Linked DNA regions of Homo sapiens: region 1 is linked to region 2. Evidence: fine-mapped expression QTL. Tissue or cell type: blood mononuclear cells. Region 2 holds a variant in brackets; the other region holds the start of a gene. All regions are shown on one strand. Distances are from middle to middle.

Region 1 (10,198 bases), 52 kb before region 2:
AAAAACGCACCAATCAGCATTCTGTGTCTAGCTAAGAAGGATTGTAAACACACCAATCAGCACTCTATGTCTAAAGCACTCTGTGTCTAAAGGATTGTAAACGCACCATCAGCACTCTGTAAAATGGACCAATCAGCATTCTGTAAAATGGACCAATCAGTGCTCTGTAAAATGGACCAATCAGCAGGATGTGGGCGGGGCCAAATAAGGGAATAAAAGCTGGCACCCAATCCAGCAGCAGCAACCTGCTCGGCCCCCCCTTCTACACTGCGGAAGGTTTGTTCTTTCACTCTTAACAATAACTCTTGCTGCTGCTCACTGTTTGGGTCCACACTACCTTTATGAGCTGTAACACTCACTGTGGGGGTCTGCAGCTTCATTCCTGAAGTGAGCGAGACCATGAACCCACCAGGAGGAACAAACTGCGGACACACCACCTTTAAGAGCTGTAACACTCACTGTAAAAGTCTGCGGCTTCACTCCTGAAGTCAGCAAGACCACAAACCCACTGGAAGGAAGAAATTCTGGACACATCTGAACATCTGAAGGAACAAACTCCAGACACACCATCTTTAAGAGCTGTAACACTCACTGCAAGGGTCCATGGTTTCATTCTTGAAGTCAGTGAGACCAGGAACCCACCGGAAGGAATAAATTCCGGACACACTTTCATGCACATTACTAAGGCTACCCCTTGACAATAATCTGCCTACAGTCATAATTTGGGACAAAGATGATTCTAAAAATCATCTTTCTGGCATTTCATTCACTCATTAAATCATTCATTCACCTCAGGCATTGGTGGTTTTGTTTGTTTGAGACAGACTTGCTCTGTCACCCAGGGTGGAGTGCAGCAGCACGATCTGGGCTTACTGCAGCCTCTGCCTCCCAGGTTCAAGTGATTATCCTGCCTCGACTGACTCTTGCTCTGTCACCCAGGCTGGAGTGCAGCAGCACGAACTGGGCTCACTGCAGATACTGCCTCCCAGGTTCAAGTGATTTTCCTGCCTAAGCCTCAGACTATAGACATGCACCACCACACCTGGCGAATTTTTTTGTATTTTTTAGTAGAGACAGGGTTTCACCATGTTGGCCAGGCTGGTCTCAAACTCCTGACCTCAAGTGATCTGCCTGCCTTGGCCTCCCAAAGTGCTGGGATTACAGACTTGAGGTACCACACCCAACCTGGTTTTTATTTTTAAATTTTAATTAATTTATTTTAGTGATGGGGTCTTGCTACATTGCCCAGGCTGTTCCTTAACTCCTGGGCTCAAGCAATCCTCCCGGCTCAGCTGGAACTACATGTACGTGTCACTCTACCCAGCTCACCTGAGGTATTGAAATGGATGCTACACGTATAGTGGCAAAGAAAACACATGGTTCTCGCCCTTCTGGAGTTTATCTTGTGGTGGTAGGGAAAATAGTTAATAAGAAAACAAATATCATATATACATATAACTAATATATACATAATTTAAACTTAAGTATTATGGGGGAAACTGGACACAACAGAAGAGAATAACTTTGGATATTATTGGTGGTGGGGGGGCAGGTGGGGTGTTGGAGGGAGACCTACTTAAATAGGGTAGTTAGATCTTTGAGATGTGATGGTTGAGAAGGAGCCAGCCATGAGAAAAGGTAGGAGGGGTCCAGGCAAGGGCACAGCATGCATGAAAGCCTGAGAGCAGAGATAAATTAGCAAAGAAATGAAAGGCAGTTTCTGGGTTGGAGTGTCACAGGAAAAGGAAAAAAATGGTAAGACATGAGGTTGGAGAGGTAGGGAGGGGCCAGATCAAACAGGTTATTGTGACCATAATTAGGAATTTGTATGTAATGGGAAATGACAAAAGGGGTTTTAGAAGAAAATAATGTGACTTCACTTATATTTTCAAAATAATTTGACTGCTCTGTGGAGAATAGATTGAAAGAAGCATCCAAGATATTTGTGATACAGAAGAAGAGACATCAGGTAGATAAACAGACGTGTGTATAGAGCCCAAGGGAGAAGTGAAGGCTGGAGTTAAAAATCTGTGAGTCATTTCAACTATTCTTAGGGTTCCAACAAGAAATTGTAAAGATTTACAACCACCATCGTCACCACCTAGCCTTTATGTAGCAGTTTAATTTACCTTTGATCATCACAGTTCTCTGAAATGCCTAGTCTTGTAACTTTACAGATAAGTACCTGAAGCTCAGAGGAATTACTTGATTTGCTCACTATCTCTCAGCATGAGTCAGAATTTAAGCCAAGAGTTTTGACCACAAAGTCTATAATACTACCTCAACTATGAGGCAGGGTTTTGTAGTTCCATTTTAAAGGGATTAGAAAGAATATGAGTAACTGAATAAACTATGCAAGCTTTAAAAAAATACTTAACCTTATATTCTCTATTAAGCATATCTTAAAGCTTCCTGTTCTCCAATTCACCTTAAAGTATGGTAGTAAAACTAGGAATGTCAATGAATGGATGAGTTACTATGAAAGAACAGATATGACTTTGTGACTGATGGGACATAGGAGTTAGGGCAAGAATTAGAGCAAAAGAGACATGAAAATTACCCAAAAAGGAACATCATTGACAAGAATAGCCAACATTTCTATGGGATTTCTTATGTACCAGATAAAATTACACACACACAGACACACACACTGTCTCGGTTAAGCTATGAGATAGGATTGTAATTATCCCATTTTAAAGATGACGAAATTAAAGAACAGAGAAATAACTTGCTTAAAGTCATGCAGAATATTAGTGGTGAAGCTATGATTTAAATCCAGGCAGTTAAGATCCTAATTTTGTACTCTTAACCACTATGATACGTTGCCTACCAACTGGGGGAAATCAGTTGACAGAGGAGTTGGAAATACTCAGTTTAAATGATAGCAAGGTTCACAAGAAAGGGTGAACAGAATATCTGAAATTATGTTTAAGGCTATGGAATATAAATTTAGGAGCTATGAAATTATGAGGCAGGATTTTTGTTTTATGGAAATGTGGGATCTGGAAGTTGGAAAAGCTATTGGAAATATCCAATACAGGCTGGGTACAGTGGCTCGCGCCTGTTAATCCCAGCACTTTGGGTGGCTGAGGTGGGTGGATCACTTGAGGCCAGGAGTTCAAGACCAGCCTGGCCAACATGGTGGAACCCCATCTCTACTAAAAATACAAAAATTAGCTGGTGTGGTGGTGGGAGTCTGTAATCACAGCTACTTGGAAGGCTGAGGCACAAGAATTGCTTGAACCCGGGAGGCAGAGGTTTCAGTGAGCTGAGATCATGCCACTGTACTCCAGCTGGGCAACAGAGCAAGACTCTGTCTCAAAAAATCTGTCTCAAAAAAAAGACATATCCAGTACATTTTTTCTTTTCTTGGAGAGAATGTGGGAGAAAGGAGAAGCTGTGAACTGAACCATGGGAAATGTTCAAGCAGTGAGAGAGGACTGAGCAGAAAAACGGGGGATTATCAACAGGTCTTGGTAAATAATTAAATACAGTGAAAGAGGGAGGAGTCAAAGATGGACATGGTTTGATCTTGGTGACTGAGAGGACAATGAAATCATTAAAAAGGGCAAAGGTATTTTGAAGATAATATGTTCTAGATGATGGGGAATATAAGGAGGGATCAGTGTCTCTAGAATAAAATTCAAAAATCCATCCTAGGGAAAGCATTCAAGCCCTCTCTTGTCTGGCTGCAACCTACCTTATCAGTATTAATAACTTTGCCTCCGTCTTGCTACCTACCTCTTGTCAGTCGGGACTCTTGATTACATGTGAAAGAAAACCTCTCACTGGTTTAAGCAATAAAACAGATGCAAGAATTTACTGACTGGTTTAACGAAATTTCCAGAGGAATCTAATCTACATTTGTTTCCAGGCCTCAAACATGTCTTTAGGCCAAACCTGTCTTCAAATCTGCTTTTTTTCCGTGTTGCCTTCTTTCTCAGAATTCACGTGTGGAAAGATGGCTCCAGGTCTCCATTCTCCCAGATTTAAACCCATTGGTAAAGACGTAACACCCTTCTTAGGAACCGTAGTTTGCAACCGAGGATTAAACTCAAATATGCCTTCCCCTTGTGTCCTGCTCAGACCATATGGACTGAGAGTGGATAAATGATAGTTCTTCAAAAGAAATTATCAGAATAGGGAATGAATGCTGAACAGGCAAAAATGTCGACCAAAATATCTTCTGCTATATGATGGGGTAAATTAACAAATCATGTTTTCCCACTCCTGAAAGAAAAATCCTTAGGTGCAGGATCAAGGATCTGAATAAGTGCTTCAGTTTGATGTTCTTTTGCCCAGAGCATACAGCAAGAATTGAAAATGTTTACTGAGGTGACTGTTACTTTAAAGGGAGGATTTTACGGCCAGAAAAGTGCATTTTTTGAAAGAAAAAGATGGCTTTTATTTCAAATCCAAAAGATATTCATTAAAACATAGGAATTACTAGGAATTAAGACTGTAAAGATCTCTTTTCCAGTAGAAGCACTGAAATGTGCTTTCTCATGTGGACCAAATGTGCCTTAACGCATCAAGATAAGTAATTTCCCGAAGATAAGTAGTAGTCACACGTTGTTCCAACGAGGAAATCCATGCAAATTAGGGTCCTGGTTTATTTCTGATGCTTCATTCTCCATCTTCCATTACACTGTCACTTGATTTTTAATAAAAGGGCAAGGGAAAAATCTCCAAATGAGCAAATAAATCCCGACCTCCTTTCGCTTCCCTCCTCTGGCCGAGGGCGCATGCCCTGTCTCCCCAGGCCCACCCACCAAGAAGAAGCAACCCAAGCCGCGCTCCCTCAGGAGATGGGAGAAGATGTTACTGGCGGTCCAGGCGCCTTTGCAACTCTTCTCTCCCAGCACCAGGAGAGGAAACACGAATGATGCCACTGGGGGAAAAAGTCTCCTGCCAACACCCGAAAAATCTAAGCTGGCGTCGGCAGTGTTTTGCTTTGGAAGGGAGAGCGGGTTCCTTTTCTGGCCTCTGGATCCCTCATCCGGCAGGAAGCTCTTCTTCCTCCTCCTAGCCCCCGGCATACGGGGGGAAAGCCAAAGAGCCTCCAGGACCTAAGGCTAGCGCTCTGCCGGCCGGCCGCGCCCTCCACCCGACCAGGCCCCGCCTCCCCGGCTTTCTAGTAACCGGCGCCGTTCCCGGCCGGGGCAGGGAACGGTGCGCCTGCAGAGCCAGATTTCGGCCCAAGGGGCGCGGGAGTCTCTTCGGGCGTCCGGGATCCCCTGGCGCGGCTCCGTGCTGCCTAACGGGGCAAGTCGCATGCGCACCGAGCCGCGCTGGGGAAAGGGAGAGTGAGGGGAGGGGCGAGCGCAGAGCCTCCGCCGGCCGTCTGAGCCCGCGGGGTCGCTGACGACGCATGCGCCGGGAGGGGGCGCAATCACGGACTCGGCTTGCGGCTGCCGGTTTAAAAAAGGAAACCCCGGAGAGCGAGAGCGCGAAGGAAATCTGGCCGCCGCCGCCGCGAGCGCTCCCGGTGAGAGGCGCCCGCCCGGTGGGCCCAGGGCCTGCCGAGTGCCGGTTGGCTTCCTTGGCGGCGCATGCGCGCTCCTGGGCTGGTGGAGGAGGGGAAGGGAAGGGAGGGGGAGGAGGAGCTGGCCACAGGAGCGGCGAATTTTTGGGGGGGTGGGTGGGGGGCGCCACTCACAGCCCCAGGTGCTGCTGGAGGTGGGAGCCGCGGCGCCTCCTGGACACAGGCGGGGTAGTGGTTCCGAGTCACCGCAGCGGGAGACCTGGGTGGGGGAGGGAAGAAGCCGGAGCCGCCGCAAGCCACACGGTGAGGGCGCGGGGAAGGGGAGGGAGCGGGGGGCGGCGTGTGTGGGGCCGGGGGGCGGCGGCCAAGGGTGGGGAAGGCGGGAGCTGAAGCCCAAGTTTGGCGTGTCGTTCTAGTGTGTCTTTTCCCGGGACTTCGGGCCGAGGCCCGCCCTGCCTGAGAGGCCCTCTGGGGCAGCTGGGGTTACCTGCGGGGCAGGGGCGGGAGTGGGGTGCACGGCGGGGCCGGGCGGCTTGAGGGCGCCCGGAGCTGCGGCCGATTCCAGCAGCTGGGAGGCGGGGAAAGACGGGGACCGGGTGCCGAGAGAGCTTTCGCTGGGGACCCGCTAGGCCTTGTGACCCACTTTATTCCTGTCACCACTCGGGCACGTTTGGAGCAGCGCCCAATGGGGCGCCGGGGCGGCCAGCTCCTCCGGGGAACCCCCGCCCTCCCGGCGCCCGGCCCGCGTGCCGCAGTCCGCAGTCCGAACGGCCGCCGTTGCCGGCCGCGGGCTGGTTCCGTTAGTGGTGGTGGTTCCGGGGTTCCGTTCCTAGGCAGCGCGCGGCTATTAGCGTCTGACTCCAGCGACCGCGCGCGGGTTCGAGGGTTGGCGGCGAGGCGCTCGGTTTCTCTTCTTCCGTCCACCCGCGCTTCCCGTTCCCCGTCACCGCCGCTGGCGTTTGTAGATTTCTTTCCGCCAGTGAAGCTGGGTTTTCTGGAGTTGGCTCTGGCGCTCTGGCCCCTGGAGTGTAATTTCCTACACGCAGCGCCGCAGAGTTTATATTCTTTGAAAGTGTTTGTAGCTTTGTAGAGGTCCTCTTGTTGATGGTAGGTGAGCCTAATTCTGCAAGATAAAAGCCTAGTCTCTGACCTGGCAGATGAAAGATCAAATCAGATTGTGGTTTCCTGCTATTAGAATGCCGTGCTATTAGACTTTAAGGCTTTTTAGCCTTCTTTAAAAAATAAAAAAATTTTTACAGTGGAAGAAAAGCACAAGAAGTAAACTTTTACAGTCGTTGATTTGACTATAACGCTGATCCCCCCAAATCAAAGGTAATTTCACTTTGAAGATTGCGTTCTGATTTGTAGCTTTAAGCGATTAGAGAAAATTGTGCAATATTCCCCTCTACCTGTTTGAAAATAAACATTCTTAAAAGGATGTAATTTAGATAATGAATTGCTTTCTCTGAAACTTATCCCTTGGGACACCTCAAATCTGATTGGTTTTCAAAGCTTGGGGGAAGGAAATTAATTCCTGTGATAAGTGGTTGGCTGAACAGAATGTCTTGAAAGGTTAGCCTGTAGCATTAGGAGAAATACCTAATGTAAACGACGAGTTAATGGGTGCAGCACACCAGCGTGGCACATTTATACATATGTGACAAACCTGCACGTTGTGCACATGTACCCTAGAACTTAAAGTATAATAATAAAAAAAGTAAAAAAAAAAAAAGTTAGCCTGAAGAAAGCAGACTGAAAATGTTCTAAAGCTAGGCGTAATCAGTTATGAAAAAAGAATAAGGAAGCTTTCTACGTACTAACATGCAAAGATTGCAAAAATTTGCTATGAAGTGAAAAAAGCAAGGTGTAGCGGTACTTTGTGAATAGTGTGTTACATCTTAAGGGCGAGGTGTAATAATACAAGTTTATGTTTGCTCTTTATATAAAGAAATTATGGGAGGATTTAGAAAACTAACAATAGAGGAGAGGGAGAAATAGTCTGAGGGAATGGTGGGAAATGAGATGTATTATGTGTATGTCTTCATGTTTTCAAATTTTTGTGTGTATTATGGACTCATAAACTGGATTAAACAAAAATCCTCCTCCCCCAAATAATTTGTGTGATTTTTGTTGCCTAATTTATGGTGATTTGAGTCATTTTCAATATGATTGCTTTTCATATTTTTTAGGAAAATCAACTAAAAAGGAAGTTTGGGATACCTTTTATGACTATTTACACTTTAATTTTTAAGATTGCAGAGGTCACAGGCATTTATCTTTTAAAGATGTTTAGTTATATCTTGCCTTGCTAAAATATATGACTGTTTACATTTGGCATTATGGCTGGATTATGCTGCTTTCAGAGTGTAGTTTGTGTTTCCCCCTCCTCTTTTTTTCAGGAGTCATAGATGGGTAAAATTTTACTTAACCCCAAAGTTTCATGACAAACAATTATGAGGAGGATGTGAACATTCCCTTAAAGTGCTAGTAAACTTGATTGTCTAGGTTAGTTTGCTTTTCAGGTTGGGAAACTTTTCTTTCTTTTGAGGAAATCAAACATGAACCCCAGTGAAAGGTAAATTGGGGTGTGTGTGTGTGTGTGTGTGTGTGTGTGTGTGTCTGGTTGTTTCTCATGAAAGTGTACAAAATGAACATTTTTTTAGGACTGGATTGTTGAAAACCTGTTTAATGAGGTTAAGACTGCACAGGCAGCTGTTAGATGAGATATAATTTTGGGAGGGGACCCTCAAACTCCCCCTGGTGACTAATATTGTGTAATGAAAGTAGTGAATAGTGAGTAATGGATTGCAGTTGCTGTGGGCATTTTTGTAATATTACCAGTATTCCTTTTTATTTTGTAGGATAGGATACTTATATTATTTCTGTTTGATATGTAGGTTTTTCTAATAGACTTCTGCAAAGTGTCACTTATTTTTCATTTGAATTCCATGTGGGTCCGTTCAATCTTTTTTAAAAATGGAATTACATTTCAATTTTTTTTTTTTTTGGAGACGGAGTCTTGCTCTGTCACCAGGCCGGAGTGCAGTGGCACGATCTTGGCTCACTGCAACCTCCGGCTCCCAGGTTCAAGAGATTCTCCTGCCTCAGCCTCCCGAGTAGCTGGGACTCTTATTTTTAAAATTACAGAAGTAAATTGATGCTCATAAAAAGTTAATACAGTGTATATATAATAAGTGACAACCCCTTTACATCCACTTCTAGCTCACATTCCTCCCCAGAGGAATCTAGGGAGCACAGCTACTCGTATACCCTTGACTGAAGGGTAACACTGTTAACACCACTGTATGATCTTGTAGATCTTTTTCTGTGCATTTGCAAATATGTTCTTTTCAGCCTTGAAAACGGAATCATCTTGAATGATCATCTGCTTTGCCATTTTGCCTCCAGTATGGGCTCTGTTATTACCTACAGGACAGGGACATGACTTGGAGCCTGTCAGAAAGCTTAACATCTGATATAGACCATAGGTCATACTCATCTTTTCACTAGTGAGGGGCCAATTGTTATGGAGGCATTTGCAGAGTTTGAAGGGAGGTCATACTGATGTGAGTTTTATCTGGTATAGATTTAATTCACTGTAAACTTCGAGCGGCCGAGGTGGGAGAATGGCTTGAGCCCAGGATTTCAGGACCAGCCTGGGCAACATAGTGAGACCTCTTTGCTACAAAATTTTTTTAAAAAAAATTAGCCAGATGGGGTGGTGCACACCGTAGTTTCAGCTAATTGGGAGGCTGAGGTGGAGGGATCACTTGAACCCAGGAGTTCAGCCTTGGTGACAGAGTGACACCCTGTTTTAAACAAAACAAACCCAAAAGGTGCTTGGATTCCATGAATTTTATAGGACTCTTTAGAGTCCAAGTTTTAGGGTTTTCTTTGGCTTTTGACTTGATCGATAGTGTATGGGTTAAACTTTGATTTTTTTTCCTTCTGTACTTGCTTGCAGACTCCTACGAAAGCCTCGTAGATTACACCAGCCTCTTGAGCTCCTCTGAAGTGAACCTAAGCAGACTGTCCTTAACTAAGGGACACTGATACTGACTTGGATAAAATTTAGCTTTTGAAGGGAAAAGGAGAGAAGAGGCTCTTTGGTTTGGCTTTTGCTTAACTGACAACAAACAACTAATATGCACTACCCTCTCCTCCATCCATCCCTCTGGTTCTCTAATAGTTCCAGAGGGTTTGTTTTAAACCAGGTTACAAAGAATTACCAAACCTTAATTCTTTTTAGCTGATGGAGTTTGCAAAAAGTTCAGAGTATTGATCAAGACTATTTACTATGGGAGATACCTAGAAAGATGCAGTATAATTGACCCTGCCTTCAGTGGTTTTGAAATCTAGTATGGTTAAAACAGCATAGACATTAATAATAATAATAATAATAATATTATTATTATTATTATTATTATTATTATTATTATTTGAGACAGAGTCTCTCTCTGTCACCCGGGCTGGAGTGCAGTGGCGTGATCTCAGCTCACTGCAACCTCCGCCTCCTTGGTTCAAGCGATTCTCCTGCCTTAGCCCTCCAAGAGTAGCTGGGATTACAGGTATCTGCCACCACACCCGGCTAATTTTTGTATTTTTAGTAGACAACGGTGTTTCTCCATGTTGGCCGGGCTGGTCTCAAACTGCTGACCTCAGGTGATCCGCCCACCTCGGCCTCCCAAAGTGCTGGGATTACAGGCATGAGCC
Region 2 (10,198 bases):
GGGCAACATAATGAGATCTTGTCTCTGCAAAAAATTAAAAAGTTAAAAATCAATAGGGCATGATGGTGTGTACCTGTAATCCCAGCTACATTGGGAGGCTGAGGCAGGGAATTGCTTGAGCCCAGGAGGTCGAGGCTGCAGTGAGCTGTGTTCACACCACTGCACTGCAGCCTTGGTGAGAGAGTGAGGCCCTATCTCAAAACACACCACTCCCCCCAAACAAAACAAAAACAACAACAAAAACCCTCTAGATAGAAACAAAAACAATTATCTGAAGACTTTCGAAAGTAAACAGTAATAGGCAAACTGAGAAGGGAAGTCAAAACCTGAATAGCTTGTGTAGTGCTTAGCTTACCATTTTTTTTTTCTTTTTGTTATCCAGCTTTAACCAAATGGTAGGCTGGGTTGTAGAAGTACATGTTGAGTGCAGCAGTTAGCAAAAACTCCAAGAGAAACCCTTTATTTCTAGTCATAGGACAAAGAAAATTCCCCCCTTTTTTTCTCTCCCAGCTGTGCCCTGAGACCATCTCCATTTGTAAAATTACATTGCCATAGTGGTATATGTACTTAAAATCCCAAGAAGAAAGCCGTCTCTCTGGCCAGAGGAATTGGGAAAGAGAACTCTGGAAGCTGGAGCATGCTTTGGAAGTCTCAAAGAGAAGACACCTAGTTTGGGGGGAGATTCCCTAATTGCATGTATGAACACACAAAGGTCCTACCTACTGCATCCATGAGCTACACGTACATGGAACAGAGCGAAAGAAACATGGCAAAGACCTAGAGAGCTGAACTATGGTGTAAACCACTGCTCAAATCCCAGAGTTGCCCCTGAGAGATGCATGCGGAGGATAGATTTAAGCAGCATTGTGAACGCTTTGAAAACTGAAACAACGATTGGTACTGTGGCCTGTTAGGAACCAGGCCGCACAGCAGGAGGTAGGTGACTGGCTAGTGAGCATTAGCGCCTGAGCTCCGCCTCCTGTCATATCAGTAGCAGCATTAGATTCTCATAGGAGCGTGAACCCTGCAGTGAACTGCGAGTGCAAGGGATCTAGGTTGTATGCTCCTTATGAGAATCTAACTTAACAAGTGTGATGATCTGAAGTGGAACAGTTTTGTCCAGAAACCATCCCTAACAAGTGTGATGATCTGAAGTGGAACAGTTTTGTCCAGAAACCATCCCCGCTGTCCATGGAAAAATTGTATTGCATGAAACCAGTCGCTGGTGCCAAAAAGGTTGAGGACTGCTGCTTTAGAGGATGTTAATGGAACCTAGAATCTCATAACTTAATATCTAGAATGTCCAGGATATGATCCAAAATTACTTGACATACAAAGAAACAGTAAAATCTGACCATTTTTAAAGGAAAAAGAACATAAGCCAGTTGACAACTCTGAGATGATCCAGATGATGGAATTATCAGAAAAAAGCCTTAAAGTACTCATGTTCATGAGGTAAAAGTGAACACTTCTGAAAGGAGTGTAAAAATAGTTCTCTGAAAAATAAAAACTATATGAAATAATCAAATGGAAATTTCAGAGCTGAAAAATACAATATATGAAATACAGATGTACTGCATGGGCTCAGTAACAATGGAGATGACAGAAGAGTCAGTGAGCTTAAAGATGAATCAGTAGAAATCCCATCAGATCTCGTGTCTTCTGTATCAAGAGTATATGTCTGTTCTATAATATACTTGTTATGTCCATGTTGGATTCTGTGAAACCTGGTCACAGGCCTTCTGGCTGGTGGATTCTTGTACTACCTACACGTCCTCATTTATCCTATATTTACTCCTACTTACGTGATGCAAAGACCTATGCAGTTTGAGCCCCATCTCCCCTGCCACTCCACAGATTGAGATATGGTCTTGGCCTGCCATTTTCCACACCTTGTCATTTTAGGGTAAGGATCAAACAGTCAGTGGGTTAAAATAATAATAATAATAATAATAAGGAACTAGATAGATCAATTTTTTAAATTTGAAAGCTTTGAAAGTAAATAGGGACAGAAAAGCAGAAATGGGTAACATATGTATAAATTATATATTGCAAAATCTTCTAGTTCAAAGGGATTACATTTTTTCCTAAATATAAACTTAGATATAATGATTATTTTAGTGAAGAAGACATGCTTTATGGTAGTTTTTTTCTGAATTATCTGTGGTTCAGGATGCATCTAAACTTCTTTGAAATACTTTTCAGATGATTTTGAATTTGCCGGGCCTACTTGGCTACACAAAAGCAGCTGGCAGTTTACCCGAGTTTTAATAAGTCAAAACAACTGTCTTTTCAGTGAAATGATTATTGCACAAAGGGGAATACTTGTGGCCTTGAAAATTGATGCATTTTTTGGTGGTGTTTTAAGTGGCTCTGGTGACCTCATAGATGTAGTACATAATATGTCAAACATTGTCATTATATTTATACATATTAGTTGTATGTTATTAAACAACTCATGAATTAGCTCTAAACCTAGCATTGTCAAAGTACTACTTAATAATCCGATTTCCTAAGAGGTCCCTAGAGGATTTATAGTACTAATGAAATTCTGTACTTCTTTTAGGTTGCTAAAATTCTGTATCTCTTTTTTTTTTTTCTGGAGATCCATCTCAGAAATCTATATACATTTGCCCTTTTAAAAAATAGGCTTCTACAAAGTCTGGGGTTTAATTCATCTTTTTTGGACAATCTGTTTAGTGCATATAAATTACATCATATGTGTTTATGGTGTAACAATTAGTTTTCCAAAAGGGGAAATATGTGCTAGTATTCATTTGGACATTGACAGATTTTTCCGTTCAGAAGAATATCCCTAGAGCCTGTTGCTACCATATAGCAATAAAGTTAGACTTTAGTTACAGTTGAACGCATGCAGCCTGAATTGTCATACACATTATTTTCCAATTCCCTTTAAGAAATATGAAAGGTTAAGATAGTTCAGAAGTTAAGAACTACTGGCATAGTACTGTAGTCTTTTATCTATTAATAGATCAAATTATCCTTTGATGTTTCACCTTTCCCCTCAAAAAATATTTGATTTTGTCTTTGCCAAACAGAGACTTTTTGGTCCATGGTACGTGGTAGGCAGAATACTGACCCTTCAGAGAGGTTCATATCCTGATTCCTGGAACCTGCCACTATGTTAGGGTACATGGCAAGGAATAATTAAGGTTGCTAATCAGTTAACCATAAAATATGGAGGTTATCTTAGATTATCTATGTGGGCTTAATGTAATAAGGGAAGAAAGAGGCAGAAGAAATGGCAGCCCGAGAAGGACTTGGCCTCCTGCTGGCTTGAAGATGGAGTAGAGGGAGCTATGAGCTAAAGAATACGGGTGGCCTCTAAAGCTTGAAAAGGCAAGGAAACATTCTCTGCTAGAGCTTACAGGAGGGAATTCAGCCCTGCCAACACCTCGGTTTTAGCCCACCTTGATTTTAGCCCAGTGAGACCTATATTGGGCTCTCACCAACAGAACTGTAAGATAGTAAATTTGTGTTGTTTTAATCCATTAACTTTGTGATAATTTTTATAGAGGCCATAGGAAGCACATAGTACCTCTTCAGTTTTTCACTAATAACATAAAGTTTATATCATGATTAGTTGAATCTTGATGTGAATGACAATATGATTTTCTGTGAAGGTCAATTCCAGTTTATTGTATTAAGATATTTATGTTGATAATATATTGGGTACTGGTGGACAAACCTTTGTTTTACGTAGAGGTCTTTATTTTCTACTATCTAGGAATGGTGACGTGATTCCTTAGTGTAGCTGGAGAATAAGGAGTCTGTGTACAGTAAAGTAGAATGGGAAATGAGGAAGGAGAAATAAGACTAAAGCTAGAAAGGAAAATTGGTGTCTTGGAATGTGATAAATAATCTTCAGAAGCCTTAGAGCCCTGAACAAGTTTTTCATTATTTGCATTATATGTGTTTGTGTTAGTAAATACTGTAAATTGGAATTTTAAAAAGTTTTTATAGTCAGCACAACTTGAACTATATTAAAGTGGTAAGCAATCATTACATTTTGCCACAGAATAGCTTATCAATATGATAAGTGTATAAAGGACTCAGTGGTCAAAAGGAAGGCTAGAGTTTAGAGAAACATGAAAAAGAATGAAGCATTTCTCATAGAAGGTAATTAACAACATAACCAATCATTGACTGTCACTATGTTTAGTCTTCCCGACCATGTCAAATAAACTTGCTTTACTCCCTTGTGCCTTTACTAGGAAGAGAAACTGAGGCTCCAACAAAGATTATGAGCTGGCACAGTTTTTTTTTTCTTTTTAAAGACCCAACATAAATAAGTTAGAGCTATA[T/G]TGTCAGTTTTTTTGTTTTTGTTTTTTGATTGTTTCTTTTTTTTTTGAGACGACCTCTCGCTCTGTCACCTAGGATGGAGTGCTGTGGAGCAATCTTGGCTCAATGCAACCTCCACCTCCCGGGTTCAAGCGATTCTCCTGCCTTAGCCTCCCAAGTAGTTGGGATTACAGGCGCCTGCCACCACGCCCGGCTAATTTTTGTATTTTTAGTAGAGACGGGGTTTCACCATGTTGGCCAGGCTGGTCTTGAACTCCTGACCTCAGGTGATCCACCCACCTTGACCTCCCAAAGTGCTGGGATTACAGGTGTGAGCCACTGCGCCCAGCAGTTTTTTTGTTTTTTTAAAAAAAGTTTGTGTTTTTTGTCTTTTTGCATCAGGTGGATCACATGCTATCCCAGTTTGTGAGAGAGGGCTTAGATGCTTAAAATTGAGGATACGGAGGGTCTTTTGGATATTAGTAATGGTGAATTCTGGGGTAACACTAGCAGAATGAGTGGGAGGTGGGGTGGAACACAAAATTGTTGCAGAAGAGATCAAGGAACTCACTGGCCAGTTTTGGGGGATCATTTTGTGTACATTGAAATTCAAAAGAGGTATTGGAGAGGGTCACACCCTTCGTGGAGTGAAGGGGCTTATCCTGGGGTTTGTGAATGACTACAATAAGGAGGGGATAATAGCTGATGTAGTCTGGTGGCATGAGAGTCAAAGCTAAGGTTTTAGGGAGGGAGAGAATAATTCAGAAATGACAGTGAGTTACAAGGAAGTTCACCCCACCAACAGGGCTTGGTCATCTGAGATATGGGAGAGTAAATATATTTTATCTCACATGAGAGAGAAGCCATTGTTTGAAAGGGCTGGAGTTAGAGCAGAACTCCCAGAGGGGAGAGAGGTTACAGCTGGGAGCAAGTAAGGTGAAGAGTGTGCAACAACAATACTGAGGAAATAGGATATTTTAACGACGATGTGTACCATGAGTTCCAGAAGACACTGCGAAAGGATTTCGGGAATTGGGGGAGGAAGAGAAAAGGGGTCAGTGTAGGGACATACAGAGTATATAGGGATGAAAGTATATAGGGATGGGGGATGACTTGGGAGTCTTGGGCATTTCTTGTTGACTGATGTAAAAAGAATGGAGGGCATAATGGGATTCTCTTTGATGATCTCCTATGCAGGTTGCTGTAAATACTGAAAGGGAAGTGTTGGTGAGAGCCAGGTTTATCGAGAGAAACCGGATTCTGTATAGTTTTCTGTTGCTACCATACAAATAACCACAAACTTAATGGCTTAAGACAATACAAATTTATTGTTTTACAGTTCTGCAGCTCAGAAGGCCAACACAAATCTCACTGACCTGAACCCAAGGTGTCAGCGGGCTGCATTTCTCTCTGGAGGCTTCAGGAGAAAATCTGTTTCCTTGTTTTTTCCAGCTTGTAGAGGCTACCTGAATTCCTTGGCTTGTGGCCACCTTCTTTCACTTTCAAAGCCAGCAACTTTGCATCTTTTTAAAAGAATTATCATTTCAGTAGGTTTTTGGGGAACAGGGGGTGTTTGGTTACATGGATAAGTTCTTTAGTGGTGATTTCTGAGATTTTGGTGCACCCATCACCTGAGCACTGTTCCCAATGTATGGTCTTTTATCCCTCATCCCCCCTCCTATCCTTCCCTTCTCCCCGAGTCCCCATGGTCCATTGTATCATTCTTATGCCTTTAACTTGCCATCTTTTTGACCGTTCTTTCTGATATATCAAACCACAGCTAGGAAAGGTCCTTTCCTCTTAAGAACTCACGTGATTATTTTGGACCCACTTGGATAATGCAGGATAATCTCCACATCTCAAGATCCTTATCCTTAATCACATCTGCAGTGTCCTTTTTTGCCATGTGACATAACATCTTCATAAGGTCCAGGGAAGAGGGAATGGACATTCTTCGGAGGCTGTTATTCTGCCTACCACAGGGCTCCCTCTTTCTTCCTGCTGGTGTCAGGATGAAGGCCAGGTGTAGAGTCGTATAGCTTCAGGTTTATGGTACCTGATTACATGTGAAATTCATTCTGAGGCTTGTGCTCTCCCTCCACCTTCAGGTTTTATGTGGGGCTTACTTGGGGCTGAGGACAGATGTAGGCCTTAGTCTTATCTCTGAAAAGGGGATAAGGTGCTCCTATACTCTGTGGGCAAGATCAGTCTGTTATATGAATACAAAGCTCAGACATTACTTGAAAAATATATATTAGTTGAATCGTTGGAATAGTATTGTCCCACTAAGAGAACTGTATTAATTTTTTAGTTTTTGTTTATTTAATGAGGTTTAGTGAATATCTTACATCTTGACATTCAGCAGGCTAGAGTTATAGTGTCAGTTGATGTTTGTCTTGAGCCAGAATCCTCTCTGGTTTTAAGAGGTCTGGTTCATAAAACTGGTTTGGGATGTGGTTCTTATTCTTACAGGTCAGTTTTCAAATTTAAATTGATTGTAGAGATAGCTGTAAAACCAAATATGTGTTTTATTTTGCCAATATCTTATATCGGTTGTAGAGGTGGCTAATACATTCAATATTGAATAAATTGAGAACCACTGTTTAATTTCATTTTTTCCTCGTACATTAAACAACGAATCTAAAAAGTATTAAATATTTGGGCCTTTCTTTGCAAGTTAAAATAGTTTTTCTCTTAGAAATAATTACTGTTTCAGTTATAATACAAAATCAGTAATCTGCAGAAGCAAGTTAGAATTTTTCATAAGTGGTAATAAAAGTAGTTAAGGTTTGTTCCTTAGGTTTTGTATTATACCGGTCAATTAAATTTCAGCACTACTTTTAATTAATGTTAATAGATCCGTCAGTTCCCGAAATACCTGTGGTATCAGAATTAACAAACCTAAATTCCAAAGTAGGTCAGTGGGTCAGTAGGTTATTAGGTTAGGGAAAAACTGTAGTTTTAATTTTTAAAATTCAAATTCCTGAGTTAGCCATTTTTAATTAATAATTTTAAAATTATTAACTAGATGAAACTTTGTTTTCTTTAAATGGCTAGAAAAATAGTCTCTGTTAAGTTTTTGTTCTCTGGAATAGATAACAGGTTGTGTTTTATCTTATTTGCCTCCTCATGTATAGCTAGGCCTCTAGTATTGGACAATTAAAAGAAAAAGAAAAAAAATGCAGCACTTAAGCTTTCTGATTATAAAAGTAATGCATGTTCATGGGAGAAATTTTAGAAAGTACTAAAGAAAGAACAAAAAACACCATCCATAAACTACCTAGGAGCAATCACAGTTGATACTTTTGCTATATTCAGGTTTATGTCTGATATATTTTCATGCCACTGTTAATGCAGTTAGACATTTAAATTTGTTCTAGCTTTACTGTTTTTATTTTATTTTATTTTTTTTAGAGACAGAATCTCGCTCTGTCACCCAGGTCAGAGTGCAGTGGCGCTATCTCGGCTCACTGCAACCTCCGCTTCCTGGGTTCAAGCGATTCTCCTGCCTCACCCTCCCGAGTAACTGGGATTACAGGCGTGTGCCACCATGCCCAGCTAATTTTTATATTTGTAGTAGAGATGGGGTTTCACCATATTAGCCAGGCTGTTTTTGAACTCATGACCTCAAGTGATCTACCCACCTTAGCCTCCCAAAGTGCTAGGATTACAGGCATGAGCCACTGTGACTGGCCTAGCTTTATTATTTTTAATAATATCTCAATGAATATAAAAGTTTAGATGCATCTTTGATTATTTTATTATTTCTCAAAGTGAAATTACTGAGTCAAAGGGCATAATTTTCAAACCAATTTATTTTTTAAGAAAGAGAAATTCCTCCTTTTCTTGGTTTATAAATTCCTTCTATTCCTAGTTTGTTGAATGGCGTTTTTTTTTTTTATCATGAATAGGTGTTGGATTTTGTTAAATGCTTTTTCTGCATCAATTGAGATCCCTCATACGATTTTTATCCTTGGTTTTGTTGATGTGGTGTAGCACATGGATTGGTTTTATTAATATATGTTGAACCTTGCTCAAATCCCAGGGATAAATACCACCTGGTCATGTGGTATAATCCTTTTAATTTACTGTTGCGTTTGGATTGGTAGTATTTTGTTGAGAATTTTTCATCAATATGCATAAGGAATATTGGTCTATAGTTTTTTTCTTATGGTGTCTTTGGCTTTGATATCAGCATAATGCTGGCTTCATAAAGAGTTTGAAAATGTTCCCTTTTCAGTTTGTTGGAAGCATTTGAGGGGGATTGGTATTAATTCTTTCAGTGTTTGGTAGAATTCTTCAGTGAAGTCATGTATATGGTCCTGGCTTTTCTTCATTGGGAAGTTTTTGATTCAATATAATTACAAGTTATATGTGTCTGCTCAGATTTTCTTTTTTTATTTTATCATTCTGACTTACTGATTAATTTGTCTATTCTTAAAAAAACTATGTACTCTCTTGTAAAGTCATCTGTGCTGTTGCATGCAGTCTTCTCTTTGTTGTATAGCATTCCATTATATGAATACCACATTTTGTTTATCCATTGTACTGTCAATGAACATCTGGATTGTTTATAGTTTTAGACCATTATGAATAAATCTGCTGTGAACTCTGTTCACATTTTTCTATTCATGATTCAGCCTTCGTGGTAGATGGCATATTTCTAGGAATTTATCCATTTTTTCTAGGTTATCTAATTTGTTGGTGTATATTTATTGAGTTGTCTCAAAAAAATACTTTTTTATTTCTGTGACATCAGTTGTAATTTCTCCTTTTATTTCTGATTTTGAGTCTTCTCTTATTCCTAGTGTAGCTAAAGATTTGTCAATTTTGTTAGTCTTTTCAAAGAAACAACTCTTAGTTTTGTTGATTTTTTTTTTTTCCTATTCACTGTTTTATTTCTACTCTAATCATATTTCCTTCCTTCTGCTCTCTATGGGCTTTGTTCTTCTTTTTCTAGTTCTTTGAGGTATAAAGTTGCATTGTTTGAGATCTTTCCTTTTTTTTTTTTTTTTTTTTTTTTAGCACACCTGCAGGAATCTTTCTTCATTTTTAATGCAGTCATTGACTGAAATAAGATTCCCTGTCAGAACACTTTTGCTGCATCCCATACATTTTGGTATGTTGTGTTTTCGTTTGTCTCAAGATGTTTTCTAATTTCTCTTTTGATGTCTTCCTTGACTCTTTGGTTATTCAACAGTGTGTTTAAATTTCATCTGCTTATGAATTTTCTAGTTTTCCTTCTGACATTTCACTGTGATCAGAGAAGATATTTAGTATAATTCAACCTTAAATTTGTTAAAACTTGTTCTGTGCCCTATTAGGTGATCTGTCCTAGAGAACGTTCTCTGTGTACTTGAGAATAATGTGTATTCTGCTGTTGTTGGGTGGAATGTTTTGTGTATGTCTGTTAGGTCCATTTGGTCTATACAGTTGGCCTTCTGCATCTGAAGGTTCCACGTCTGTGGATTCAACCAACTGTGGATAAAAATATTCAGAGAATAAAACCATTTACAAATAATACAAATTTAAGAAACCAATATAGTATAACACCTATTTACATCACATTTACATTGTATTATGCATTATAAGTAATCTAGAGATGATTTAAAGTATAGGGGAGGAGGCACATAGGTTATAGGCAAATACTACATCATTTTATATAAGGGACTTAAGCATCTGCAGATTTTGGTATTAATATTTGGTGGGGGGTCCTGGAACCAGTCCATGTCAGATAACAAAGGATGACTGTACTGATACACTGTTTAAATCTATGCTTTCCTTCTTGATTTCTCTTGGATTATCTGTCCATTATTGAAAGTGGGGTATTGACATCTCCTGCTACTATTGTATCTGCTGTTTCTCCCTTCAGTTCTATTGATGTTTGCTTAATATA

Evidence for each region. PIP is the estimated chance that this variant, and not a neighbour inherited with it, causes the effect.
Region 1: CLOCK starts here. The variant in region 2 is fine-mapped to the expression of CLOCK in blood mononuclear cells (TOPMed, PIP above 0.99).

Annotation. Positions count from the first base shown.
Region 1 is chr4:55,542,072-55,552,269 of GRCh38, reverse strand. CLOCK (clock circadian regulator) reads left to right here and starts at 5,361. Exons shown (of 23, transcript NM_004898.4): 1 at 5,361-5,488. It overlaps LOC124900704 (a long non-coding RNA gene), which reads right to left and starts at 6,405. Exons shown (of 2, transcript XR_007058122.1): 1 at 5,660-6,405; 2 at 4,381-4,654. RefSeq lists silencers at 5,086-5,455, 5,516-5,615, 5,736-6,365.
Region 2 is chr4:55,490,362-55,500,559 of GRCh38, reverse strand. The region is part of intron 2 of CLOCK (clock circadian regulator); the gene reads left to right. Among named protein-coding and RNA genes, the nearest start is that of CLOCK, 51 kb to the left of the region's middle. RefSeq lists an enhancer at 804-1,098. The variant T/G (reference allele first, on the strand shown) is at 4,326.